Homo sapiens: one gene and its partners. The protein of the gene in region 4 purifies or fractionates together with the protein of the main gene of each other region. This does not show direct contact. Each region holds a gene or a part of one and is shown on either strand. Other genes may lie near its edges.

The links.
Region 1: the proteins of KLHL22 (region 4) and EMC7 purify together in Homo sapiens (co-immunoprecipitation; 4 studies listed by BioGRID and IntAct, with this or other methods). This does not show direct contact.
Region 2: the proteins of KLHL22 (region 4) and GLUD2 purify together in Homo sapiens (co-immunoprecipitation; 4 studies listed by BioGRID and IntAct, with this or other methods). This does not show direct contact.
Region 3: the proteins of KLHL22 (region 4) and SCAF8 purify together in Homo sapiens (co-immunoprecipitation; 3 studies listed by BioGRID and IntAct, with this or other methods). This does not show direct contact.

What each region holds. Positions count from the first base shown.
Region 1 is NC_000015.10:34,084,841-34,091,865, reverse strand, and holds part of EMC7 (endoplasmic reticulum membrane protein complex subunit 7 precursor), read left to right. Parts: intron 1-1,410; coding exon 1,411-1,549; intron 1,550-3,732; coding exon 3,733-3,813; intron 3,814-5,499; exon of another isoform or gene 5,500-6,008; intron 6,009-7,025. UniProt on the Homo sapiens protein: Part of the endoplasmic reticulum membrane protein complex (EMC) that enables the energy-independent insertion into endoplasmic reticulum membranes of newly synthesized membrane proteins.
Region 2 is NC_000023.11:121,042,834-121,050,602, reverse strand, and holds GLUD2 (glutamate dehydrogenase 2, mitochondrial precursor), read right to left. Parts: upstream 2,994-7,769; 5' UTR 2,919-2,993; coding exon 1,242-2,918; 3' UTR 509-1,241; downstream 1-508. UniProt on the Homo sapiens protein: Important for recycling the chief excitatory neurotransmitter, glutamate, during neurotransmission.
Region 3 is NC_000006.12:154,827,403-154,834,427, reverse strand, and holds the end of SCAF8 (SR-related and CTD-associated factor 8), read right to left. Parts: intron 3,507-7,025; coding exon 3,288-3,506; intron 2,490-3,287; coding exon 1,033-2,489; 3' UTR 207-1,032; downstream 1-206. UniProt on the Homo sapiens protein: Anti-terminator protein required to prevent early mRNA termination during transcription. Together with SCAF4, acts by suppressing the use of early, alternative poly(A) sites, thereby preventing the accumulation of non-functional truncated proteins.
Region 4 is NC_000022.11:20,443,782-20,450,806, reverse strand, and holds part of KLHL22 (kelch-like protein 22), read left to right. Parts: intron 1-4,130; coding exon 4,131-4,364; intron 4,365-7,025. UniProt on the Homo sapiens protein: Substrate-specific adapter of a BCR (BTB-CUL3-RBX1) E3 ubiquitin ligase complex required for chromosome alignment and localization of PLK1 at kinetochores.

The DNA of each region.
Region 1 (7,025 bases), on a different chromosome or scaffold from region 4:
CTTTTATTAATAAATGCATAGCTCCCCCCACAACAAAGGAAATCCCTAGGGGATAAACTATAAAGCACTTCCCCACCTGGAGATTTTGATATTCTCTAACCCAGAAGGCTTAGATTTAATTAGCAATGTGCAGGGAGGAGGCAAGCCATGGGCTTGCTTGGAGTCAGAATTAGATCTAAAATTTGGTCCTCCCTTTGACCTTTGGTACTAAAATGCAGAAGGCCCTGGATTTTCGGAGGGAAAAGTCTGATGCTGGCCTTTGGGGGAAAAAGTCTCCCCTGAAAACTGATAGTTACGCTCCTACACTCATTACAAGTTGGGGTATGAATTTATTACTTTCTGCATAATCCAGGAACTTCCAAGCTAAGCAATGAACAAAATAGTTTCTGTTTATAATTCCCAAATTCCTGGCAGTAACAAATGCATAATCTCTCTGGAAGGAGATACCCTTTGTATCTCTTTACTTAAATAAAGGTAAATAAAGTCTACTAAACTTACAAAGAACCCAAGAAAACAGTCTACATTGAGTCAGCAAATAAATCAGACCTCTAAGAACTTTAAATAGTAGAATTATTAGATATAGACTGTAAAATAATTTAATGTATATTTAAAGTACTTAAGGAAATAAAAGACTGCCATAGAAATGATATACCAAAATAGGCTATAGATATTTGAAAAAAGAATAGAATAGAATCTCTACAATGAATATAGGCATTGAAATGTACAACTAAATGGATGCATTAAGAAACTGAGCAGAAGTCTGATGAAGTGGGAGACAGATCAGAAAAAAAATTTCCCAACACAGCAATGACAGTGAAATAGGAGAGGCAGTTTTCAAAAAGTAAAATGGATCCTATGTAAACATGGATGAGAATTTTGATTAAAATTAGTGCGTCTTTGGTGAAAAATGTAGCGTTACCTATAGCACTGCTGCAGTGCTTTCTTGCATTATAACATTTTCTGGCAATATAGCCTTAAAAATTGGTTACATCCAATAATGCATTTCTTAGACCATCAAAAAAATAAAATCCAGTATTTTTGTATGGTATAATGAAGTAAATTCATTACTAAATATAATCAAATAACTTTAGCACCAGAAGGATTCTAAAAGAACTTTTGACATAAATAGAAGTTAGGGAACTGATTTAATCCCACAGGTCTAGGTAATGACAGAGCTGCAGCTAGAAGATTCCAAGTCTAGCGTTTTTTTCTCTGTGTTTTGCTGCATATTTTAGACATGTAGATAAAGCTATTTTGGTCAGATTTTCAAGATCAAAAGTTTAGGTTTTAAAGCATTTTGGAAAAAGCTGAAAGTGTGTATAAGGCATTGCTAATATAATATAAGCAGTTCTTTTAACCAGTAATGTTTTTAATGGAATTACTGTTGCTTTCCCCATGTTGCTTTATCAGAGCAAGATATGTGAATTACATCAAAACATCAGAGGTTGTCAGACTGCCCTATCCTCTCCAAATGAAATCTTCAGGTCCACCTTCTTACTTTATTAAAAGGGAATCGTGGGGCTGGACAGACTTTCTAATGAACCCAATGGTATGTATCAGGCTAAAATAAAGCACTTTACTAATACCTAATTTGCTTCTAGGCAGTGGAAACTTCAAACCTCTGTGAGATAGAAAGCTGAGGTCAGATTGGTGGATGAAAGGATAATTGTGAATAATTTGCAGATTTCAGAAGAATAGTGGCTTTGGGAATACATAATGAAGAGAATATAATGAGAATTGCACTGTAGATTTGATTATTGAAATGTGTAATAGAAATTGGATAAATATTTATAGCATGTTTTACATTTCAAATAGAATAAGAATACTCAGTAAGTCAGTCATACCTGGAGCTGTCTCATTCTTCATACTACCTGCGTATTTTTTGTTTGTGGTTTGTTTTGGCTTTTTTTAGACGGGGTTTCGCTCTTGTTGGCCAGGCTGGAGTGCAATGGTGCGATCTCGGCTCACCACAACCTCTGCCTCCCAGGTTCAAGCGATTCTCATGCCTCAGCCTCCCAAGTAGCTGGGATTACAGGCATGTGCCACCACGCCCGGCTAATTTTGTATTTTTAGTAGTGACAGAGTTTCTCCATCTTGGCCAGGCTGGTCTTGAACTCCTGACCTCAGGTGATCTGCCCGCCTCGGCCTCCTAAAGTGCTGGGATTACAGGCGTGAGCCACCGCACCCAGCCATACTGCCTGCATATTATTAGTCCATTGATGAATGTGCCATCATTTATTAACCAGCCCCTATTGATAGCACAAGTAAGGATTTCTTCCTCTTTTTTTAACATGTGTAGTGAAGAGAAAAGTTATTCTATGGTAATTTAAGTAGTTGGCATTATGAACCGATGTTATGATACTCACTAATAATAAAACACTAATAGCATGCATTCTTTAAAAATTTGTTTTTATTTTTAATTATTATAGGTGCCTAATAGATGTACATTTATGAAGTACATATGATGTTTTGATATAGGCATACGATGTGTATTAATCACATCAGGGTAATTGGGATATCCCTCACCTTAAGCATTTATCATGTTTTTATAAATGTTAGGAACATACCAATTCCACTCTTTGATTGTGATTTTAAAATATACAATAAATTATTGTTGACTATCATCAAGAAAACAGTTTTTAGAAACAAATCGACCTTTTCTTTTGCTGTTTTTAAAAATTGAATTGCTGTCTTAGAATTTGTCTAAGTAGGCCAGGCGCGGTGGCTCACGCCTGTAATCCCAGCACTTTGGGAGGCTGAGGTGGGCGGATCACAAGGTCAGGAGTTCGAGACCAGCCTGGCCAACATGGTGAAACCTCATCTCTATCAAAAATATAAAAAGTTAGCTGGGTGTGGTGGCGGGGACCTGTAATCCCAGCTACTTGGGAGGCTGAGGCAGGAGAACTGCTTGAACCAGAGGGGGTGGAGGTTGCAGTGAGCCAAGATTGCACCACCACACTTCAGCCCGGGGAACAGAGCGAGACCGTGTCTCAAAAAATAAAAATAAAAATAAAAGAATTTATCTAAGTTTTGGTCATAATCCTTGCTGATAGCTATTTAGATCACACATGATCTGTTTTCAGAGGCTGTATATCCCCTAGGGAGGAATAAATTAGTACCTAGAATCTGTAATCAGAGATAAAGAGGCGGGGGGAGACTGGATGGAAGAAGTCAGCAGTGAAACTCCAGAGCTTATTCACCTTCCATGTTCTCATTTCTGAAATTCCGTGGAAGTGTATCTAGTGCTCCAGTGCTTGATGCTTCTAGGTCATTTTTCAAAACTGGTCTGCTAAAGTAGGTCAGTTTTCCAAGAACCACAGTCACCTGAAAAGAGCAGTTAGCTTGCCATCAGATCACCAATCCCATTGCCAGACTATAGATTAAAAAAAAAAAAAAAGGGAATAGATAGTTCCATTTGCAAACTATTTGTGTTAAATAACACTGTAACTCTGCAAAAAGATAGGTGGGTGGCACAACTATGAAGTGAGGTGTCTATAAAGTCCAAACATACATACAGAAAACTTTAATATTCTATAATAGTCCACCATAGTCAGACAGACAGCCCCTTGCTATCATCAGAACTGGCTCAGTAGAATTGCGGTGGTTGCTACTAGTGTTATTGTATAGACAACGTTTAAATCTTTAATTTTACCATTGGTTGTTAAGTGCAGTTTTTGTTCTATTAACTGTAAAGTGGGGGAAAAACATTTTCTGGATTTTTTTTTTCTGCAGGTTATGATGATGGTTCTTCCTTTATTGATATTTGTGCTTCTGCCTAAAGTGGTCAACACAAGTGATCCTGACATGAGACGGGTAAGATGATGGTCCAGCTATGGATTTTTTTTTTTTTAAGAGATAGAGCCTCTGTTGCTCAAGCTGGAATGCAGTGGCACAATCAGTTTGAGTGGCCTCAAACTCCTGGGCTCAAGCTATCCACCTGCCTCAGCCTCCCAAAGCACTGGGATTATAGGTCCGAGGCACCATGCCTGGCCCCACCTGTGGGTTTTTGAACCGTATTGTGATGTTTGCTCTGTCCCATCGTAGCTGGGTAGCTTAGTTTTTCTCAATTTTATTCTAGTTCCCAAGCCAAATTAATCTAGAGGTTGTATTAACATAGTATCATGTTTATGGCTTTTAATTAGTTGCTTCCATTAGACTAGATAAATTGTTAGTTCTGCCTGGCCTGGATCTCTTTATGTAGCTAAAACATCTTACTGCATCCTAGCCTCTTTGTGTGCCTTACTTTTTAAATAGCTGAAATGTACAATACTTCTGGTATGCTGAATCTAAATATTTTACAAAGTGATTGTTCCTGTGATCTGCCTTTACTTTACAAAACTCTCTTCAGAGTACATACTCAGTTTATGTGTTCAGACACACAGATAGACCAAGGGGGATGGATAAGTAGAAGAGTGACCTTTGAATTCTGTTCCACAAAACCATACTGGTTCTGCAGAGGGAGAGGATTTGCTAAGTAGGATGCTTCCAATTTAGTGCCACCACATTTTCTCTTTGAATATTGGCTTCTATTTGAACTCTTCATTTTTTCAAAAAACCATCATGCATTTTTCCGTTCAACCATCAACAAGTATCTTCTGAGTTTCAAGGTTCCCCATTTTATTTAGTATATAGATGTGGTGACATTTTATTCATTCCTGAGTAAACATTTATCAATTTCTAGGGTCTAGATACTGGAGATACAGAAATGAATTATAGGCCATACCTGTCATCAGTAGGCTCAGTCCCAGTTAAATGTAGAAAATAGAATGGATTTATCAAATATTCTTCTTGCTATCAGGGGATTTTGTGACTTTTTCTTTTCTTTTTTCTTAATAGAAATTTGTCTTATTTCTTAAAGAAATAAGGTAAATAAAAATGTTTGCTAAGGTAGTAGGTGATTATGTTCTGTGGAAGGTAATAAGGGGTATATTCAAAGCAGGAATGGCAGAAAAAGATTCATAGGAAAAGAAAGGTTTTTGATATTTCAAAATGTTTTATTGGTGAATGTTTGCATTTTTGCTTCAGTGTTAGACTGAAAGTAATACATCCTGTGCATTCCTTGTATATGTTAAGCCAATTAACTGTGGCATCAGTAGAAGGAAACATCAGAAGTCACATTTGATTAAAAGTTCATTCTGGCCGGGCGCGGTGGCGCAGGCCTGTAATCCCAGCACTTTGGGAGGCCAAGGCAGGTGGATCACCTGAGGTCAGGAGTTCACGACCAGCCTGACTAACATGGTGAAACCCCGTCTCTACTAAATACAAAAAAATTAGCCGGGCATGGTGGCGCATGCCTGTAATCTGAGCTACTTGGGAGGCTGAGACAGGAGAATCGCTTGAAACTGGGAGGCAGAGGTTGCAGTGAGCTGAGATCGTGCCATTGCACTCCAGCCTGGGCAATAAGAGCAAAACTCCGTTAAAAAAAAAAAAAGTTCATTCCTTGTGAAGTGCTTTGCACATAGTAAGCATCTTAAAAAGTTGATTCAAGAGCTTCAGAAGCTCTCTTCCTTGGCACTGCCTGCAGAGGTGGCACCATCTCCTACTTGGCATCATGGCTGCCCTCAGATCCTTTGTGAAGCCCAAGATCATCAAAAAGACAACTAAGAGGTTTATCTGGCACCAGTCAGACCAATATGTCAAAATTTAGCTTAACTGGCAGAAACCTAGAGGTGTTGACAACAGTGTTCGTAGAAGATTCAAGGGCCAGATCTTGATCCCCAACATTGGTTATGGGAGCAGCAAAGAAACAAAGTACTTACTACCCAGTGGCTTCTGGAAGTTCCTGGTCTACAACATCAAGGAGCTGGAAGTACTGCTGATCTGCAACAAATGTTACCGTGCTGAGATTACTCACAGTGTTTCCTCCAAGAACCACAAAACCATCTGGAAAGAGCAGCCCAGCTGGCCATCACAGTCACTAGTCCCAATGCCAGGCTCCACAGTGAGGAAAAGGAATCAACGGCTCTCATGCATGTTTTATTTGTGTTTAAATAAAACCACAAAAACTGAAAAAAAAAAAAAAAAAAAAGGGGAGCTTCAGAATTGAACAGATTCAAAAATAGAGTTGATATATGTTTGCAGGGACTCAAGAGCTGTTACCATATACATTTATTTCTTAATTATTGGGGCATGTTAACATACTTGATTTATGTTTACAATATTTCTTTCGCTAGCCTTATTTGTAAAAGCAACTTCTCCTTTAAAATTTAGGAATCAATTCTACCTTTGTGGGAAAAGCTCAAGCTAATATCCCAACAGTGTTCAATTTGAAATGGAAGCCTAGTGCTGTGCTGTGTGCCTATAGTCCCAGCTGCCCAGGAAGCTGAGGCAGGAAGATCACCTGAGCACTGTCTCCTAAAAAAAAAAAGAAAAGAAAAAAATGAAAGAAATGATAGATAATATAGTATTTGCTATCTTTTTCATGTATGAATGAACTAAAGTCAATTTTAAGTTCACTTTGAGAATGTCACTTAAAATTTAAATGAAGCAGATGTTACATTAATATTATATAACTATCAAACAGTACTTTATAGATTTTTGGCTCAATTAAAGGGGAGGACAAATACTCAAAAGTGCCAAGTCCTATCCTGTTTTGCCAATGACTTCTTTGTAACAGTGTGTTGCTTGCTTTAGAGTCTAATTGAAGTCATGCAAGCCATACAGCATTCATAGATTTACTACTGAGGCTTATAAATGAATTCTTAGAAATATTGCACTTATTTTCCAAACTGTACTGATACCTTGATATATAGTTAAAAATTAATATTCTGGTTATATGCATCTAAAGGAAGCATGAACTTAAAAATGTACTCATTAAAACAATAAGAAATCACTTTAATCAGAAAACATAAAATAAGAGAGGAATATGATCAAATATATTCAGTATCAGAAAAAAGTGTTCTTTATTAAGACAAGCAGAATCACACGAAAGGGAACATCACACACAGGGCCTGTTGTGGGGTGGGGGGAGGTGGGAGGGATAGCATTAGAAGATATACCTAATGTTAAATGATGAGTTAATGGGT
Region 2 (7,769 bases), on a different chromosome or scaffold from region 4:
ATGTAGACTTTTAATAACTGCTTTTATCACCAGGTTAAGCCATGCAGTTACAAAGTAGTTAGAAATTTCTGAAGGATATTATAGTTAAAAAAAAAAAAGCTGATTCTTACACATATATTATCTAGCACTTCATGGGGACACTATTGTTCAAAAGGCCCTGGCCAAATAACTCCCAAATGAAACACTCAACCCAAGGTTGGTTTCAGCCCACTGTTAGTGAAGCTGGGTGCAGAATGCAAAGCCTCTAAAAGAAGAGGATACAAAGTCAGGTGAGTAGGGGCCATTGGCAATGCTCAGAGCCAGCCAGACTCCAAACAGGGAGCCCAAGTGGTTTTTTTCTGGGACACTCTACTTGAATTATTGTTTAATTAGTCAACCATAGATCTTCAAAAGAGAACAATTAGTTAACATGATAAAAAGGTTACTGCATTCTTTGGACTATGTGTCATAATTATAACAGCGAATTCTGACAGTTTTAACGAAAATAGCCTCCACCGTTTTGCAGGTATGAAGATAACGTAATTATCCACAGGGCTTTTAATGTTTGCTGGACAACAATACGTGAATGATAAGCTACAAATGAAACTTTTATGATATAAAAATACTGTTTTTTTTCATTTATTATTTTTATAGGCATTCACTGAGTCAAGGTTAGGCTTGTTAAGTGATTAAAGGCAATTTTATTACAGCAGCATGTACTTATTCTATTCTAAAAGAATAAAATTCATAAACAGAAACAGCTTTTATATTTGTTTGCAATCTGCAAAATTGAGTTATTTTGCTGATATAAAATACTAAGAACTCACTTGAGGACCATGCCACCTTCTGAAAAGGCCACACACCTTCTTCTTAAATGTGTTAAAGTTACAGCGTGTCCCAGACTCATCCAGAGCAAAATAAGTAAGCAACTGACTGCTCTTGACTGTCCCTTCCCCAGCACTAGCACTGATTGTGCTGGGAAAAGCCACAGAGCAAGGCTGCACAGCCATATGGAGGAGGCTTTTTATTTAAAGGCAAAATACCAAAATAGCTCTCTGGTGTAGGTGATTTCTACTTTCACACTCAGCTTGTATATTAATTTCTTTCTCCTTAACGGGCTGATTTGGATTGACTTGTTGAGAATGGTATCCATTAGTAATGAGTCAGGAGAGAAAGGGATTTCTGTGGTTACATGTAAACTTGTGGTAGGTCTGCAGAAGTTACACGTGAAGAGGTTAGTGAGGAAGTCAGCCATGATCCATCTATGTGAAGGTCACACCAGCTTCACTGTACACTTTGAAGACTTTTTCAATGGCATTGACATAGGCAGCTGTTCTCAGGTCCAATCCCAGGTTATACTTCATGGCTGTGTGCATAATTTGCCTGGCAGAACGCTCCATTGTGTATGCCAAGGCAGAGTGCACAATGTCTTTCTCAGATGCACCCGATATACTGTCTTGGAACTCTGCCGTGGGTACAATGGGAATAGTTCCACCATGCTTTCCAAATTTTCTTTCTAAACTCTCTTGAACAGACAGGAGCAAGTGGTAGTTAGAATCCCTTTCATATTTGAAGGTCAAACGGCCATAGCTGACATGATTTAGATTCTTCAGCCACTCAAAGTAAGATACTGTCACTCCTCCAGCATTCAAGTAGAGATCTGGAATAACCAAAATGTTTCTCTCCAGGAAGATCTTATCAGCTTCTGGAGTTGTTGGCCCATTGGCACCTTCAGCAATGATCTTGGCTTTGACTCTGGGTGCGTTGGATTTGGTCAACTGCTTCTCAGTGGCAGCTGGGATCAGTATGTCACAGTCGACCTCCAAGATGCTTCCTTCATAGGGCTTTGCCTTGGGGAAGCCCAGAATGGACCCATGTTGCAATTTGAAGTCTTCCAGTTCCTTTGGGTCAATACCATCTGGATTCCATATACTCCCATCAGACTCACCAACAGCAATACATTTAGCACCAAAACGATGTAAATATCTCATAGAGTGTAGGCCCACATTACCAAATCCCTGAACAACAAATGTTTTATCTCTAAACCCTGGTGTCATTCCTAAAATGCTCATGTAAGAAGCTTCATTGATGAAGTTTTCAATCCCATGGAAGACACCACGGCCAGTAGCAGAGATGCGTCCATGGATTCCCCCTTGGCTGATGGGTTTACCAGTAACACAGGCGTGTGCATTAATATCATAGTGCCCTATGGTGCTGGCATAGGTATCAGCAATCCAGGACATCTCCCGCTCACCTGTGTTCATGTCTGGAGCAGGCACATCAACGCCAGGACCAATAAAGCCCTTCTTTGCTAGCTCCATGGTGAACCTCCTTGTGATCTTTTCCAATTCATTTTCGGTATAGTTCTTGGGATTGATCTTAACACCAGCTTTAGCACCCCCAAACGGCACATCAACCACTGCACACTTGTATGTCATCAGAGAAGCCAAAGCTTTTACTTCATCTACACTCACATCAGTGCTGTAACGGATACCTCCCTTGCAGGGCGTGCGGTGCTGGCTGTGCTGGGCCCGGTAGCCTTCGATGACCTCCCAGGAGCCGTCGTCGCGCCGGATGGGGAAGGAGAGACTCAGCACATGGTTGCAGGGCTTGATGATCCGCAGGATGCCGCGCACCCGGTTCCGCTTCTGCTCCTCGCTTTCCTGGGTCCTCAGGTCCTTCACCAACTTGTCCTCCACGATGCTGGCGCCGCGATCGAAGAAGCCCTCCACCATCTTGAAGAAGTTGGGGTCGTCCTCGCGGTCGGCCACCAACTCGCTGTAGTGGCGCCGGGCGGCCAATGCGAGCCCCGGCTGCGAGGCGGCGGCGGGCTGTCCGCGGCCCCGGCCCAGCAACGCGGCCGAGTGGTTGGCCGCGGAGCCCAGGGCAGCGGGCCCGGCCCGGGACGGCAGCAGCGCTTTGGCCAGGTAGCGGTACATCGCGGCAGGCGGAGGAGGGGTGCGTGACGGTCGCGGAACAGGTGCGCTTTCTCAGACTCCCCGCGACTAGGAAGGAAGGGTCCGGCGCGGGTTGCCCTTTTAAGCCGCAGCTTCCTGCCTGCCCGGCTGTCCCCTCCCCTTGGGCGCCACCTAACGGGGAGGACGGACTTTGGGGGCAGGGCGCCAACCAGGGCGCCGGACCTCCGGGTCCGGAGGTCCGGGGCGCCGGACCCGCCGCGGCCTCGCCGGGCCTGGCTGGCCTGTTTGTTCTATACTTCTAATGTTTAATAATTACCCAGAGCTTTGGATATATGCAATTCTGCAAAATAAATCAAAAGGAGTCAGAAGGCAATTTTATTTCCTAATAGACCCTTAGTTAGAATTTAACTTAAAAGCCATTTTTAACAAATGTAAACAATATCTCCCCTCCTCTCCATCAAAGTCTGACGGAGACAAATGAAAAGATTTTTTAGAAGAATAGGACTATATCAAGACCAAAAAAAAAAAAAAAAGCTAAGAAAGGGTACCATCAACAATCTTTACAGAACTTCTGGAAAGTAAAAAGCAAATGGTACTGGCCTGGGGAATAACCAAAGAAAATGAAACCTCAGCCCCGGATGGCAAAGGTAAGTGCAATTCTTCCAAAGAGAGCCCTGAGTGAAATTTTAAACAGGAGTGAACAAAACAAAAAGCAGAGATTGGGCCCTAGAGTACTCATGGCCTTATTTCATTTAATAAGTTGCATCCACAAGCAGTGGACCAGGAGGATCCTGCCCCCTCTCAGATAAAAAAGAGCAATTGGCAATGGCAGCTTTTGCCCCTTGGACAATGGTTCTCAAACTTGAGTATGCAACAGAATCACCTGAAGCACTTATTAAAACACAAATTTCTGAGATTCACTTGGAAAATTCCTTATTCGGCAGTCATGGAATGATTCACCTAACAACATGAAAGCATCCTAGAAGCTTTGAGTTAAACTATTAAATTATTTGCAAGAAAAACAACAATGCTGCCAAAACATACAACATAATGCATGTTAAAAATCACAGGATGTCTTATTATGAAGAACAAGGCAAAGATGCCTACATTTGCCATTTTTATTCAACATAGTATTAGAAGTTCTAATCAGAGGAATTAGGCAAGAAAGAAAAAAAAACAGAAAAAAAGTAAAATTACCTCTGTTCACGTATGGCATGACCTTATGTGTAGCAAACGCCAAATATTATACAGAGGGAGAGAGAGGGAGACAAACACATACACAGAGGTAATATACAAATTCAACAAAGTTGCTGAATACAAAATAAACACAAAAATATCAGCTACATTCCTATATGCTATGAAGTAAATATCTAAAAAGGGAACTAATAAAACAATTCAATTTACAATACTATCAAGAAGAGTAAAGTACTTAGGAATAAATTTAACCAGTGAGGCAAAAGACTTGTACATTGCAAAATACAAAACATTGCTGAAAGAAATTGAAGGAGGCATAAGTAATGAGAAGACATTCTATGTTCATGAATTAGAAAACTTACAATTATTAAAATGGATAATACTTCACAAAAGTGATCTATAGATTTAAAGCAATCCCGATCAGGATCCCAATGATGTTTTTGGTATAAATAAAAAAGTCTATTCTAAAATATATATGGAATTTCAAGGGGCTCAGAGTACTCAAAATAATTTTGAAAAAGAACAATGTTGGATGATTCAAATTTCCTGATTTCAAAACTTACAACAAACCTGAAGTAATCAAAATAGCGTGGTACCAGCATAAGGACAGACATAAACAAATGAAATAGAATAGCCCAAAAATAAACATTAAACATATAATCAGTTAAATTTTTAAAATCTTTTATTTATGTTCAGGGGTACACATGTAGGTTTGTTATATAGGTAAACTCATGACACAGAAATTTGTTGTACAGATTTTTTAGTCACCCAGGTACTAAGCCTAGTCCAATTGTTATGTTTTCTGATCTTCTTCCTCCCACCCTCCTCCCTCTGGTAGGTCCCAGTGTTTGTTGCTCCCCTCTTTGTGTCCATGAGTTCTCATCATTTAGCACCCATTTATAAGTGAGAACATGCAATATTTGGTTTTCTGTTCCTGGGTAAATATGCTAAGAATAGTGGCCTGCAGCTCCATCCATGTTCCTGCAAATAACAGAGTCTCATTCTTTTTTATGGCTGCATAGTATTCCGTGGTGTATATGTATCACATTTTCTTTGGACAATCTGTCATTGATGAGCATTTAGGTTGACTCCATGTCTTTGCTATTCTGAATAGTACTGCAATGAACATTCGTGTGCATGTGTTTTGTTTTTTTTTTAATTTCAATAGGTTTTGGGGGAACGAGTGGTGTTTGGTTACATGAATAAGTTACTTAGTCATGATTTCTGAGATTTTGGTGCACCCATCACCTGAGCAGTGCACCCTGTTCCCAACATGTAGTCTTTTATTCCTTGCCACCACCCACCCATTCCCCCAAGTCCCCAAAGTCCAGTGTATCATTCTTATGCCTTTGCATCCTCATAGCTTAGATCCCAATTATGAGTGAGAACGTACAATGTTTGGCTTTCCATTCCCGAGTTACGTCACTTAGAATAATAGTTTCCAATTCCACCCAGGTTGCTGTGAATGCCACTATTTCATTCCTTTGTATGGCTAAGTAATATTCTATGGGATATATATATATCACATTTTCTTTATCCACTCATTGATTGATGGGCATTTGGGCTGGTTCTATATTTTTGCAATTCTTTGAACTGTACAATACGATAATTGTGACACAACCTATCAAAACCTCTGGGATACAGCAAAAGCTGTGCTAAGAGGAAAGTTCATAGCACTAAATACCTACATCAAAAAGTCTGAAAGAGCACAAATAGACAATCCAAGGTCACACCTCACGGAACTGGAGAAAGAACAATCCAAACCCAAACTTAGCAGAAGAAAGGATATAAGAAAAATCGGAGAAGAACTAAATGAAATTGAAACAAACAAAAATTACAAAAGATAAATGAAACAAAAGGCTTGTTCTTTGTAAAGATAAATAAAATTGACAGATCATTAGTGAGATAACCAAGAAAAGAAGAGAGAAGATCCAAATAAGCTCAATTAGAAATAAAACAGGAGATTACAACTGATACCACAGAAATAAAAAAGATCATTTAAGGCTACTATGAACACCTTTATGAGCATAAACTAGAAAACCTAGAAAAGATGGATGAATTCCTGGAAATATACAACCCTCCTAGATTAAACTAGCAAGATACAGAATCTCTGAACAGAATCTCTGAACAAGCAGCAAAATTGAAATGGTAATCAAAAAATTGCCAACAAAAAAAAGGGACCCGAGGACAGGCCTACTCAGCCTGATTCCACCTACTAGTGCTGAACATGCCATCAGGTGGTCTGGGAATTGCCCTGCCCCATAAACCACCATTAACACCAGAGCACTCTTCCCAGGGTCCTGGGAATGAGCCCACCCAACCTGATGCTACTACCACAGCAGGCATCCACTCACACATGCCACATGCAGGCCTGGGTACTAGCCCACCCAGCCCATTGTAGTCACTGCCAACACTAGTGAGGACCAATTGCAAGGCAGAGGATTATCCTGCCACTGCTACTGCCATCACCATGCCACGCCCACTGCCAAGAGGCCTGAGGATATGGCCACTCACCCAGCCCACTTCTGCCACTGCCAACATGTGAGCAAGCTACCTGGAGCCCCAGGAATCAGCCCACCTGGACCAACTAATGCCAATGCCAGCTTATGCCACCCAGAGGCCCAGTGACAGGCATGCTCAGCCTGATGTTTTCACCAATAAAGCCTGAGCACTGGCCAACCTGATATACCTGTGACCACGAAAATGTCACAGCCTGTACTAGCAGCTGCACCCTATGCCACTGAGAAAATCACAGGCACCACTGACACTGCTTACAGCCAAAAAAATCATATGGAGACTGCAATACTGCACATACACAGAATCAAAGCACTACCCAACCAATATCATAAATACATCTTCAGGAAAAAGTTCTTCCCTACAAAAGCAAATTCAAAAATTGGAAGAAGCAACTGTTACACCAGATGCACAGACATCAGTGAATTAGCACAAGAAACATGGAAAAGCAAGGGAAAATGACACTTCCAAAGGAATATAATAATTCACCAGCAACAGATCCAATCAGAAAGAAATTAACAAAATGCTGAATAAATAATGGAAAATACAGATTTTTAAGAAGCTCAGTAAGACACACGAGAACTCCGAGGAACTATACAAAAAAATCAGAAAAACAACTTAGGATATAAATGAGAAATTTACCAGACAGATATCACTTTAAAAAGCAGCAAATAAATTCTAGAAGAATTTATGGAATGAAATACAAAATACATTTGAAAGCATAAATAATAGGCTAAATCAAGCAAAAGAAAGAATTTCAGAACTTGAAGACTGCGCTTTTGAAATAAACCAGTCAGACAAAAATGAAGAAAAAAGAATAAAAAGAATGAGAAAAGCCCATGTGAAATATGGGACACCATACAGCAACCAAATATTTTGGATTTTTAGTGTCCCAGAAAACAGAAAGAAAATAAAAGGGATAGAAAACCTATTTAATAAAATAATAGCTGAAAACATCCGAAGTCTAAAAAGAGATTTAGACATGCAGATACAGGAAGCTCAGAGATCCTCAAATAGATGTAATTCAACAGGTCTTGTCTTTTTTCCCAAAATGAATGACTAGGGACATTGGATGCCAGTTCTCCTCAGAAAGATCAAAGTTACTGGTGAGTGCATGTTCCAAATAGAAAACTGTGGGAAGAGAGCCAGGACCTGTCAAAAACT
Region 3 (7,025 bases), on a different chromosome or scaffold from region 4:
CTTCATCAAGACCAAGAGCTTTAACTATAACCCATGTTAATTAGCCAGATTTCTCCAATATTCTACCAGATTTAAAAGAATATTTTATTATCTAAACTTTTTCAACTTTCTATTTTCTCTGTATGTGCATGAAGACGGACATACAGAGAAACAGAAAAAAACTACACGACTTCCACAATAAACATACACAGATATTATACACATACTGAGGAGGCTGCATGATTTTTATATCAAAGTACATGCTTTTTCCACCACATAGTTCATTGTTGTTATGATAGAAAGCTTTTGCAAAAAATAAGCACATGCTAATAATAATTCAAGGTTTTAAGAATTTATAGGTTAAAAAAATACAATTCCTAGAACACTGTTATCAAACAAATAAGTTTTATTGGCATCTAAAAACAAAATTCACCCAACATTGAAACGTACTTTAATATTTATGTTGTTGTTTTCTTGTTTCTTTTTTACTCACTGCAGTATGAGGAACAAATCACAAACACTTACTTTGGAGAAACAGAGACCGTAGTGTAGATTTTACAAAATCACTTTTTAAAATCTCTGTATTGTGCTCCTCAAATACCTAGAGCCAGTCTTTGCATAAAATATCACAGCTTTATCTATAACCTTAAAATTCTGCAGCAGCCTAAAGATATGGATAAGATATACCACCACTTGCTATTCTGAAATATATCTATTACCATATCCAACCTAATGATAGTATCTAAAAAATTCTTTCTTCCATAGGAAGTCTCTGACAAGCTGTTATTCATTTCCTTGACGTTAAAAGAATCTGGGGCCAACATTTGTATTTTATCAGAAAAAAATAAAAAAAAAGTTTACCTACCATGTTCATATTAAGAACAATGTCTATACAAGTCAGTTGTACAATTATTTTAAGAGAAAGGTGAACATGAACATCAGATTAACTTAATTCTGGCAGACAAAAGTGAACAACTATGGTCCAGTCAGCCATTATCTATTACAGAGAGATGACAACTTTACAAAAGGTATCTTTTACCTACTGAGTGATGATTATGTCCCCTCAGTTTCTGTGCTTTCTACCACTGGTTCACTTTCTATATCAGCAACTGTGTCACTCTTCTCCTTGTTTATTTCATTTGAAGATGTCAGTTTTTCATAAAGTTCAGGATCATTCTGTACTGGTATAGGTGGTGGCTGAGCATGTCTCTCTGTATTTTCACCATTAACCTGAGGCACATTATCACCTTTTCGTTGAGAAGTGGCCCCTTCAAAATAATCAAAAACCCGAGCATGAGGAGGGGGAACCCAAGTGTTTTGAATTCTGTCTCGTCCAAGACGATTTCCATTCATTTCTCTGCAGAAATCAAAATCTCTGTCATCCCTATCCCTTTGCCTCTCCCAGGGTCTTCTGCGGTCATCAAAATCTCTGTGAACTTCTTGTCCAAATCCTCGGTTCCAAGGACCACTTCTAGGATCAAATCGATAGTTTCCAGACCGAAATCTACCTCTTTCTTCATGTAAGCCTTTTGGACCACCATAGACCGGTAGAACCCGATGCTCTCTCTCATCAAAATCTCCTCTATGCCCCCAGGGCTTCTCTGGATTAAAGCCAAAGTGGTCTCTTCGACCAAGATGATCTATACCTGGCCTCACAAGATTCTCTCTTATATCTACAGGAGGTCTTCCAAAATGATCCCTACCATCTAGTGGAGGCCGTCCAGGACCTTCTCTTGGATCTATAGGCCGCCCAACCACATCTCTAACATCCACAGGGGGAGGTCTACTAATGCTTTCCCTGGTTTCTATAGGAGGAAACCGGTAATCTCTATCTCCTTCCTGTTGAATGTTATCATTCCCAAGTGGTATCCTTTTTTCTGGGTTAGTAACATTGTCTACGCTTTGTCTTCCAGGAGCTAAAAAAGGTCTTTCTGGTTGACTAAAAATATCTCCTGGAGGAAAAGGTCCACGGGGTGGTGGATGAAGAGCTGAATCAAGTACCGATGGGGGTGGGATTCCCCGTTGGGGTGGAATTCCAGGCTGTATTAAAGGGAATCTTGGCCCAGGTGCCTGTGGTATTAGTCCCGGACGAATGTCTAACATTGGCATTGTGGGCATCCTTTGATTAGGGATACTTAAAGGGGGTAAGTTTTGAGGTCCAGCTGGTGGCTGTGTTCCCAGAAGTCCAGGAGTATTTGGAACATTTGGTGGCTGTACTCCTACAAGTCCAGAATTGTTAGGTATATTTGGGGGTAGCACTCCCAAAAGTCCAGAACTATTTGACACACTGGGTGGCTGTATTCCCAATATTCCAGAGTTATTTAGAATATTTGGTGGTTGGGCTGCAATAATCCCAGAACTACTGGAAACATTAGATGGCCGGACCCCAAGAATTTCAGAATTACTTGATACATTTGGTCTTTGGACTCCCAGAATTCCAGAATTGCTTGTCACATTTGGCGGCTGTCCTCCTAAAATTGCAGCATTACTTGAAATATCATTTGGAATCACTAAAAAAAAAGAGAGAGAGAAAAAACTCAAAATAACAGTCAAAAGTTTCCAATAATTTTAGCTTAATCAGCTACTTGTATCCCCCAATAATCAAGGTACATTAGCTACTACATGACATCTTTTTAAGTTAAACAGAAATGTCAGGTATTATACTGATTTTCCACCTTTAATAAAAGCCTTTCTAAACCATAATTCTTTTTTTTTTTTTTTTTTTTTTTTTTTTTTTTTTTTTTTAAGAACAGGAGTGGAGGTTTAAAAGGCTTTAGGACAGGAAAGAAAGGAAAGAAAAGTATGCTTAGAAGAGACCCAAACAGGCATCAAGGTCAAGTGCCTCTAAACCATAATTCTTAATGTACCAACAGTGGGACCATAGAAAAAGGACTTACTGCTTTCAAACACCATATTTATCTTCTAGAGCTAGCTGGATAATACCTATTAGAAGTAAGTTCCCGATAGAAGTTACTCACACCCAATACTTGTTCATTTTTATCTTCCTATAAGTATACAGATTTTGTGCAGTATTATTTTGACAACACACTGAAGTAGTCCCAATAGGACAAAAAAAAGGGGGTGGTGGTGTGAGGGTCTTAATGGAAACATATTGAAATCTAGATTATCCTGAACAGAAGGCCACTTTTTCAAATAGAAATTTTAGGACATAGTGATCTCTTTTAAAAAAAAAGTGCGACATTTCAGCATCTGTAGATTGAAGTGGTTACAAACGCATGCCACCCCAGAATTAAACACCAAATACAGAGAGGCAACCTCTTTTTTTAAATTTTATTATTATTATTTACCTGATCTGGTGTTTTCACCAGAAGAAATCTGGTGGTCTATAAGATGAGGTACTTTTTCTTCAGGCTCTGCCTGTTTAGTTGGAGCATTAAAAACATTTCCAGCTGGCAGAGCGGAAGTAGCAAGATTGCTGGCAACAGAACCGCCTGGTATAACAAGGCTACCAAATCCAACATCTTTCACAGTTTCCGGTGTCATGGATAATGACGGCTGCACTAAAGCTGTTTAAAGAGGAGAAAAATATATTTCAGATTTAATGAGTCAATTCATGTGCTAAGTTTTCTGGCAGTCTGAGTATTTAATTTAATGGCATCTCTGTATTACTAAGCACATTATATAATAACCAATGCTCAAATGACAAAAGGAGTCATCATGAATAGGCTAAATTACATTTAGAAAGCTTTATCCAAAAATAGGGAAAACTAACAATTTTCAGAAATATTTCACCAAAGATGTTAGGACCAGCACTCAAAAAAAGTAAATTCTAGTAACAAAAAAATTAATAATTTTCTAGGAATGCCAGATAAAGTGAATGTCTAAACATACAGAAATGACTAGTGCAGACTGAAATGTATGAGTATGAAAATCTGCCCAATCCCCCTGCAATTACAATGTACTAGGGTCCTAACATTCATTTAACATTACCTTTTGTCAGATGAAGTTAGAAACTCATCAGTTGAGAATACATAAGGTGGACTACAAATATGAAGCTATAAACTTTCCATCTTAAAGAATGGGTATAAATATCCCTAAGTGCATTTGTCACACATATTAAAAAACACAACCAGAGGAATACAAAATAATTACACAATTAAAATTTTTAGCCCAATATGTCACTTAGAATGCCGTAAAATCATACTTGGAGAACTTAGGAAATGTTTTATCTTCATATGTAACTCTAGATTACCTGAACAAACTGTTAGCATACAACAGAGCTACAAAAATAAAAACACCTGTGGTCATGCACAAGAATTAAGAGAATTAAATGAGACAGCAAAGGCAATTTGGATAGCATCTGGCACACAACTATTTCTCTTTTTCCATTAATTAACTGCAGATTTTCCAAAATTAGTGGACTAGGAAAAAATTGGGAGGTTGGCCCTAGGGTAAGCCTCTGTGAATAGTGAATTCAGAAATGACTTCTGAACACTTTGTCTAATTTTCAGAAAGAATAAACAATTCTTCCTAATGAACCAACAATAACAAAAAGAAAGACTTTTAAACCTATCTTTTTTTTGAGACAGTCTCTCGCTCGGTTGCCAGGCTAGAGTGCAGTAGCGTGATCTCGGCTCACTGCAACCTCCACCTCCTGGGTTCAAGTGATTCTCCTGCCTCAGCCTCCTGAGTAGCTGGGATTACAGGCGTGCGCCACCACACCTGGCTAATTTCTGTATTTTTAGTGGAGACGGGGTTTCACCATGTTGGCCAGGCTGGTCTGAAACTCCTGACCTCGAGTGATCCACCCACCTCAGCCTCCCAAAGTACTGAGATTACAGGCATCAGCCACCATGCCCGGCCAAATTTTAAAGCTATGTAAACACTGAAAGGGAGAAAAAGTTTAAGAATACAAGGAAAATGAATTAGATAATCAAAAGTTAAAACCTTTATATATCACATACACTCTTCAGGTCTAATTTTTGAGGTAGGCTTGCCTGAATTACTAAAGGTTTTTTCAGAAGCTTGGAGAATTACTGTACATAAAGAGTACACTAGAATGAAAAAATTATTAAAAGGGTATATTTAGCATTTCTGTAACGTCCAATGATAGAAAAAAGGAAATGAATAAATGTCTATATTTACTGTTGCATTACATTACTTTTGAAATGTCTATTCTAGTAAAGAAAATACAGATATCAAAACCAAGTAAGCTAGAGTGCATATCCCATAAAAATGTAAAAAAAAAAAAAAAATCACTTATGAAACTGGCACCACATCTACAAAGAAAAGATTTATTTCAGGTAACCCTGATACACAATAATTTGATTATACATTATTTATTAAACTTTTATGTTCAGGGGTACATGTGCAGGTTTGTCATATAGGTAAACTTGTGTTTGTTATATAGGTTACTCATGTAACAAACAAATATTTATAGATACCTGCACATGTACCCCTAGTTATGATTATACACCTTTGGGATAAAAAAAAAGTGGCAGAAAAATCTTAGTGTCATCTGGTAGCCTTGTTGGCAGTAACACTACTTTCAAACTACTATGTGTATGTCTATATTGTATGAAAATGAAAAGCAATCACGTTACTGTTTTCAGTATATGAGAACACAAGCAAATATAAAAATCAAAGTAGCTAATTTCTTTAATAATACTTCATATTCATTTTTTTCTGTTCAAAATGCACATTTTCTAGTTTTGTCCACTAAAAATTCCTAGACTCGACGAAAACCCAAGAGCAAAATGAGAATCTAGTACCCAGACTGAGTTCTCTAGATACCATACCCCAACTGGAAAAATGGCTGATTCTCAGATTGGAGGGAGGAAAACACAAGATTTGTCTGGGATATACTGGGCCAAAAAGCTAAGTAGCTCTCAAAACTAATGTGACAGGGAGGCAACACAGGTCTCCCACCGTCCAAAGATGAAACAATCTACACTTCAAAAAAAGAAAAATGCAACTGACTAGAAGTAAAAATCCATTAATCCATAAATACTAAAGAAACTGAAGGAGAAAAAAAAAAGGGAGAGAGGGACAAGGGAGGAGAAGATGAAGAGAAATGAGAAATCTCTCTTTGGTCACTGGGTATCACTGGAAATACCTATAGATCTCATGACTCTGAGAAATGGCAATTAAAGAAAAAAATAGCATCTACCCTGACTTTGCTGTACCAACCACACTTCAAGGTAACTAAGTACCATTACCTGATTAAGGAAAACTTTTTCTTCATTTAAGTTAAGAAACATGGAAGGAATTATACATTTAGAAAGATCACCACTCTGCAACTAATAAAAAGTAGATCTAAGAAACAATGATCAATGGATGAAAGGAAATGTTTTTAATGACCAGGTTCTACTGTTCCACTAAATGTTCTGATCAATCTTAACATCATTAAAAGGGGAACAAAACACCAAGAGTGAATCAAAATGCAAACTAAGGACTTTGGGTGATAATGATTTGTCAATATAGGCTGGCTAATTGTAATATACGTACCACTCTGGTGGAGGATGTTGATAATGAGAGCCTGTGCAAGTGTGGTGGGTGGGGGCTTATGGGAATCCTCTGTACTTTTGGCTCCATTTTGCTGTGAACCTAAAAAACTGCTCTAAAAAATAAAGTTTTACACCGCCCCCCCCCCCGCCCCGCCCCAAAAAAGGTGTGGGGCAGGAGGACAAAAAGGCACTGCAAGACTTCTGATGTGATAGATAATACCAATCCTACAGCATTTTGCTTCTCAAGTATTCTTGCTAAAACAGGTGAACCGGAATCTAAGCAAGCCTTTGGTGCTAACTTCCATTTTACAGGAAATGCAAAGACAGTAATTTCAGTACCACAAAGAAGCAAAAAACCAAATCCATTATTTAAGCTCTTATATACAGAATGAACTGTTTCTTCAACAAGTCATGAAGCATTAAGAAAAGGAAGGGAGGACTGGGGCAGGACTGCACTAACATTAAGACATTTAATACACATAGCAAAACAAAAAACACACAAATAGGATGAGAGGACCTTCTCTGAATTTTGACTAAAATAAAACCAATCATAAGAGTTTAAGACAACCAAGCAAATTT
Region 4 (7,025 bases):
CTGAGGGTTAGCAGGGGCATCTGCATATACTGTAGCAGGCTGGGCAAGGAGTCTTTCTGCTCTTTCTTGGCATGCTTCACCCAACTGATGACAGCCTCAAAGACTGGTTCTTCAGGATCCACCTGAATTTCATCGCACTTGATTAGCTTTTCCACCTCTCCTTGCCTCAGAAGAATGAACTCTTCATGCTGTACCACTTCAGGAAAATTCTTCTGGCTAAAAACCTCAGCTGCTTGTGTCAGGTCAACACAATTGTGGGTTTCAGCAAAATCCCTAATACCCAGGCAATTAGAAGGGTCCAACTGACTTTCTAAGAACTCACAGCAGGCTTGTTTCACACCTTTCAACTGAAGCAGACAGGCTGCAGGAAGCAGTTCCTGTACATTCTCCATGTCACATGTACTGTTTCCGTGTACACAAAGTCCAATAAAATTTCCATGGTAGAGGCAGTCAAACCTTGGATGTCAACATAGGGTTTCCCCTTCTATAAAGGTCACTAGTGAACATGGCACAGAAGTAATCACTACAGGCAGCCAGCACAATCTCATGGGCAGGAAAGTCTTTCTGCTCTACTCAATGTCACATCACAGAAGGTATTGCTCTTCCCAACGGAGTTCATTGAACTGAGGATTGATTTAGCATGAGTATTTGTCATTATGTCTTTGGGGGCCATAATGCCTCCCATAAAGCAGTGCGGAGAAAGAACAAAAATAGGTCCTTGGATTCTGCAACTCTGCTTCTGATCCCACACAGCCGCGCCAGGGCCTGTCCCCAGCCTGTGGGGATGGAGTGGGGTGCGGGTCCAGCAGGTGGCTCAGGAGGAGCCGAAGCGTCGCCGCCGCCGCCCCGGCCCGGAGGCTCTGGAGCTGTCCGGGTCTGCTCCCTGCGGCCACGCGACGTGATGACCAGAAGAAAATCTTGAGGATCTAGCTAGGGCTAGGCAAGGAATTCTTAGACTTGACCCCAAAAGCATGAGCCATAAAAAGAAAAATTGATAAGCTGGACTTCATCAAAATTAAAAAATATTTGCAAACCACCTATCTGACAAAGGACTAGTATTAAATAAATACATATATAAACAACTCTTAAAACTCAATAAACGGCCAGGTGTGGTGGCTCACACCTGTAATCCCAGCACTTTGAAAGGCTGAAGTGAGCGGATCACGAGGTCAGGAGTTCGAGACCAGAGACCAGCCTGGCCAACATGGTGAAACCCCATCTCTACTAAAACTACAAAAATTAGTTGGGCGCGGTGGCACACGCCTGTAATCCCAGCTACTTGGGAGGCTGAGGCAGGAGAATTGCTTGAACCTGGGAGGCAGAGGTTGCAGTGAGCCGAGACCGTGCCTTTGCACTCCAGCCTGGGCGACAGAGTGAGACTCCATCTCAAAAACAAAAAACCTTGGCAAAATACTGCAAATAACCCCATTAAAAAGAGGGCAAAAGAAGCCGGGCACGGTGGCTCACACCTGTAATCCCAGCACTTTGGGAGGCCAAGGTGGGTGGATCACGAGGTCAGGAGATTGAGACCATCCTGGCTAACACGGTGAAACCCCATCTCTACTAAAAATACAAAAAATTAGCTGGATGTGGTGGCGGACGTCTATAGTCCCAGCTACTTGGGAGGCTGAGGCAGGAGAATGGTGTGAACCCAGGAGGCAGAGGGTGCAGTGAGCTGAGATTGTGCCACTGCACTCCAGCCTGGGCGACACGGCAAGACTCTGTCTCAAAAAAAAACAAACAAAACAAAACAAAACAAAACAAAAAACAGAAGGCAAAAGAGTTGAAGAAACATTTCACTGAAGAGGATGTATAGATGGCAAATAAGCATATAAGGAGATATGTAACATTATTAGCTATCAGGGAAATGCAAATTAAAGCCACAGTGAGAGAACTACCTCAGGATGACTAAAATAAAAAGTAGTGAAAATACGAAATACTGGTGACTGTGCAGGGAAACTATGCTCATGGATTGCTGATAGGAATGTGAAATGGTACAGCCACTCTGGAAAACAGATCTGGCAGTTACCATCCTGGGTATTTATCCCAGAGAAATGAAAACTACTCTGTATACGTTAGCCAGGCATGGTGATGCGTGCCTGTAATCCCAGCTACTCCGGAGGCTGAGGCACAAGAATTGCTTGAACCCGGGAGGCAGAGGTTGCAGTGAGCCAAGATTGTGCCACTATATTCCAGCATGGGCAATAGACCAAGACCCTGTCTCAAAAAAATAAAAAATAACTTATCTGTACATGAATGTTAATAGTAGCTTTATTGGTAATAGCCAGAAACTGGAAACAAATCAGGTGTTTTCAACAGTGAATGGTTAAACAAGCTGTGGTAGATACCCATGGAATACTACTGAGCAATAGAAAAGGAACCAACTATTGGTACATGTTGAGTACCCTTTATCTGAAATGCTGGGGACCAGAAGTGTTTTGGATTTCAGATTTTTTCAGATTTTGGAATCTTTGCATTATAGTTACTGGTTCAGCATTTCTTATCCAAAAGTCTGAAATGCATTTCCTTTGAGTGCCGTGTTTGTGCTCAAAAAGTCTCAGATTTTGGAGGTACTCAACCTGTACATGCAACAACCTGGTAGAACCTGGGTTGGGGTAGAAAGCCAATGTCAAAAGGTTGTATACTGATTTAATTCAGACAACACTCTTGAAGTTACAAAACTGTAGAAATAGAGAAGAGATTGGTGGTTTCCAGGGCTTAAGGAAGGGATTAGGGTAAGGGAGGTGAGTGGATGTCACCCTAAAGGGCAGCCCCTCGGGATCCTGGTGGTGATAGGACAGTTCTGTGGCTGTGTCCACGTCAGCATCCTGGTGACCCTGTGATATAGTGACACAGGCTCCTACCATGGGGGAAAGAAGGCACGTGAGACCTCTGTATTTTTACTTCCAACTACACGTGACTACACTTATCTCAAAATGAAAAGTTTAATTAAAAAGAAAAACCTCGGCTGGGCGTGGTGGCTCATGCCTATAATCCTAGCACTTTGGAAGGCCGAGGCAGGTGGGTCACGAGGTCAGGAGATCGAGACCATCCTGGCCAACATGGTGAAACCCTGTCTCTATTAAAAATACAAAAGTTAGCTGGGTATGGTGGCGGGCGCCTATAATCCCAGCTACTCGGGAAGCTGAGGCAGGAGAATCATTCGAACCCGGGAGGCGGAGATTGCAGTGAGCCGAGATCGTGCCACTGCACTCCGGCCTGGTGACAGAGCGAGACTCCGTCTCAAAAAAAAAAAAAAAAAGAAAAACCTCCCCAGACCCCTACTGGTGATAGGAGAAGACCCAAACCAAACCCTTGGTGTGTGTTCTTCCTCCCCACTGCTCCGTCCACCTCTCTAGACTCTTGTGTTTTTGCCACCCGCATGGCCTCAGTGTTAGTGACTTGCCCAGTAACATAGCTCTGGAGCCTCCACACCCTGAGGGGCTCCTCTACCCTCAAAACACCCAGGGCCTTGCCTTGGGGCCTTCTGTTGGCCTGCTGGGTGTGAGTGGGTGGGTTCCGGAAGTGGTAGGGCCAGGGTAAGAGGTGCCCATGATGGGGGCAGGCTGGGCCCTATGGAGATAGCCCAACAGAGGGAGGGTAAAAAGCCCACAGAAGGTTCAGGACCAGAATCAAGAACCATGTGTATTTTTCTCCCCACATCATGAGTTTAGTGTCAGATATTATTTACAAACATTTTAAAAGCAGGGTCAGCAGGCCCGGAGGATTGCATGTCCAGTGGGAGTGGGGGAGGGGTGGAGGCCACTGAGGGTGGGTCAGCGGTCCCCAGGGTTCTGTGGCTTCTTCCAGACTGGCTTGGAAAAAATGCTTTTATTTTCTTGGAGTTCCCCCATGCAGATGTTAACTTTAGGAGCAAAGGAAAGACAAAGGCTACATTTCATTTCTGAGTCTATAGATGTATCCGCTATTGGGAAGAGGTTAGAGGTCAATGACTAGGACAGTATGTCCCATGAGAATCGAGGGAGGATTCTTGTCTGTATGTGAGTGGGAAGTGGTGAAGCCTCACAGCGTTGTCAGGCAGGTGTGGGGTGGTGATTGGCCTTGACAGAGTACCCAGCCACCCTTCCTCACTGCCCTCTCACGCCATTTCTCCTGGTGGCTCCACACAGGTGTATGCCCACGCAGGCGCGACGCTGGAGGGGAAGATGTATATCACCTGCGGCCGCAGAGGGGAGGATTACCTGAAAGAGACACACTGCTACGATCCAGGCAGCAACACTTGGCACACACTGGCTGATGGGCCTGTGCGGCGCGCCTGGCACGGCATGGCAACCCTCCTCAACAAGCTGTATGTGATCGGGGGCAGCAACAACGATGCCGGATACAGGAGGGACGTGCACCAGGTGAGTGGGGCCCGGGGCAGTCCACACCCGTCATCATTCCCAAGCCTCTCAGTTGTTATTGATGGAAAATGTAATTGAATCATGTGCCTTTTAAAAATAGACTATTTTTTAGAGCAGTTTTAGGTTCACAGCAAAATTAAGTGGAAGGTACAGTTTCCATACACCCCCTTTTCCCCCCATACACATATAGCCTCCCCACTGCAGACCTCTCGCTCCAGAGGGGTGGATGTGTCACAGTTGTTGAAACTGCATTGATGCATCACCATCAACCAGAGTCCACAGTGTTCACTCTTGGCACATTCTATAGGTTTGGACAAATGTCACCATGACAGTATCACACACATACACATCTACCTTTGCTTATTACTCTTAAAAACTTTTAGGCCGGATGTGGTGGCACATGCCTGTAATCCAAGCAGTTTGGGAAGCCAAGGCGAGAGGATCACTTGAGCTCAGGAGCTTGAGACCAGCCTGGGCATCATGGCAAAACCCCATCTCTACAAAAATACAAAAATTAGCCAGGTGTGGTTGCATGCCTGTACTCTCAGCTACTTGGGAGGCTGAGGTTGGGGGATGGCTTGAGCCCAGGAGGCAGAGGTTTCAGTAAGCTGAGATCACGCCACTGCACTCCAGCCTGGGCGACAGAGCCAGGCCTTGTCTCAAAAAAAACAAAAAAAAACAACAACAAAACTTTTAGATCCAGGCTGGCAGCACATACCTGTAGTCCCAGCTACTCAGGAGGCTGAAGTGGGAGGATTGTTTCAGCCCAGAGTTGGAGGCTTCACTGAGCTATGATCACACCGCTGTTCCCCAGCCTAGGTGACAGAATGAGACCCTGTCTCTATTCAAAACAAAATAAAACAAAACAACAGAACAAAACTTTTATTATAAAGTTAATATAACCACATTGCCGGAACTTTAAAAAATAGAGATGGGTGGCCGGGCGCGGTGGCTCACGCCTGTAATCCCAGCACTTTGGGAGGTTGAGGCAGGTGGATCACGAGGTCAGGAGTTCAAGACCAGCTTGGCCAAGATGGTGAAACTCCATCTCTACTAAAAATACAAAAATTAGCCAGGTGCGGTGATGGGCGCCTGTAATCCCAGTTACTTGGGAAGACTGAGGCAGGAGAATCGCTGGAACCCGGGAGGCAGAGGTTGCAGTGAGCTGAGATCACACGACTGCACTCCAGCCTGGGCAACAGAGCAAGACTCCATCTCAAAAAAAAAAAAAAAATAGAGAAGGGTGAGGAAAAGCATTCATAATCAGGCCCCTGCAGTACTGTTTTTCAGTATGACCATTTTCAGCATTGACCGTGTATGTTTTCTGCCTGATTGTAGTCAAAGAGCATCCCATTCTGAGCTGGGCACAGTGGCTCACACCCGTAATCCCTGCATTTTGGGAAGCCAAGGCAGGTGGATGGCTTGAGTCCAGGAACTGATACCAGCCTGGGCAACATGGTGAAACTCCATCTCTACTAAAAATACAAAAAAAAATTAGCCAGGCATGGTGGCTTGCACCTGTGGTCCCAGCTACTTGGGAGGCTGAGGGAGAATCAACTGAGCCCAGGAGGTTGAGGCTGCAGTGAACCGTGATGGTGCCACTGCACTCCAGCCTGGGCAACAGAGCGAGACCTTGTCTCAAACAAACAAACAAACAAACAAAAAAGAGCATCCCATATCCCATTCTGCTTCTCTCAGTGACTTTTGTCCTGGGCATTTTCCAGATTAACACTCAATCTTCATCATCCCCTCTTGTGTCTAAGTTTTAACTATTCCAAATAACATGACAAGTAATAGTTGCTTTGTTGAGCTTTTCAGGTATTTTGGATTATTTCCTTAGGTTCATGCAACAGTTCTCAAAGTGTGATTCTCAGACTAACAGAGTCTGCATCACCTGGGAACGCTGTGTTACGAGGCACCTCAGACCCACTGATTCGGAAGCCCTGAGGGTGGGTCTTGGCGATCTGGCTTTTAACAGGTCCTCTGCTTGTGAGATCCTCTGGGCCAGCACATTAGTTTTCTATTGCTTCAGTAACCTATCACCACAAACATAGCAACTTAAGATAAATTTATTCTGCATTCATAAGTCCTCTGACATGGGCCTTGCCAGGCTAAAACCAGGGTGCGGTCAGGGCATCTTTCCTTTGTGGAGACCCTAGTGGGGATCTGCCTCCCTGCTCACTCTGGTTAGAAGAATTCAGTCCCTGGCAGTTGCAGTCCCATTTCCTTGCTAGCTGTCAGTTGAGGGCCTTCTTGGCTTCTAGAGGTCCCCACTTTTCCTGGCTTGGGGACACTTCGTCTTCAAAGCCAGCAATGGCAGGTTGAGTCCTCCTCACTTCTCAGCTCTCTTGTCTGGCTTTACCCTTCCTTTTTTTCTTTTTTTTTTTTTTATGAGATGGAGTCTTGCTTTGTCACCCAGGCTGGGGGGCACTGGTGCAGTCTCAGCTCACTGCAACCTCTGCCTCCTGGGTTTAAGCGATTCTCCTGCTTCAGCCTCCGGAGTAGCTAGGAGGACTACAGGTGTTCGCCACCACACCTAGCTAATTTTTCTATTTTTAGTAGAGACGGGGTTTTGCCATGTCGGCCAGGCTGGTCTCAAACTCCTGACCTCAGGTGATCCACGCACCTCAGCCTCCCAAAGTGCTAGGATTACAGGCGTGA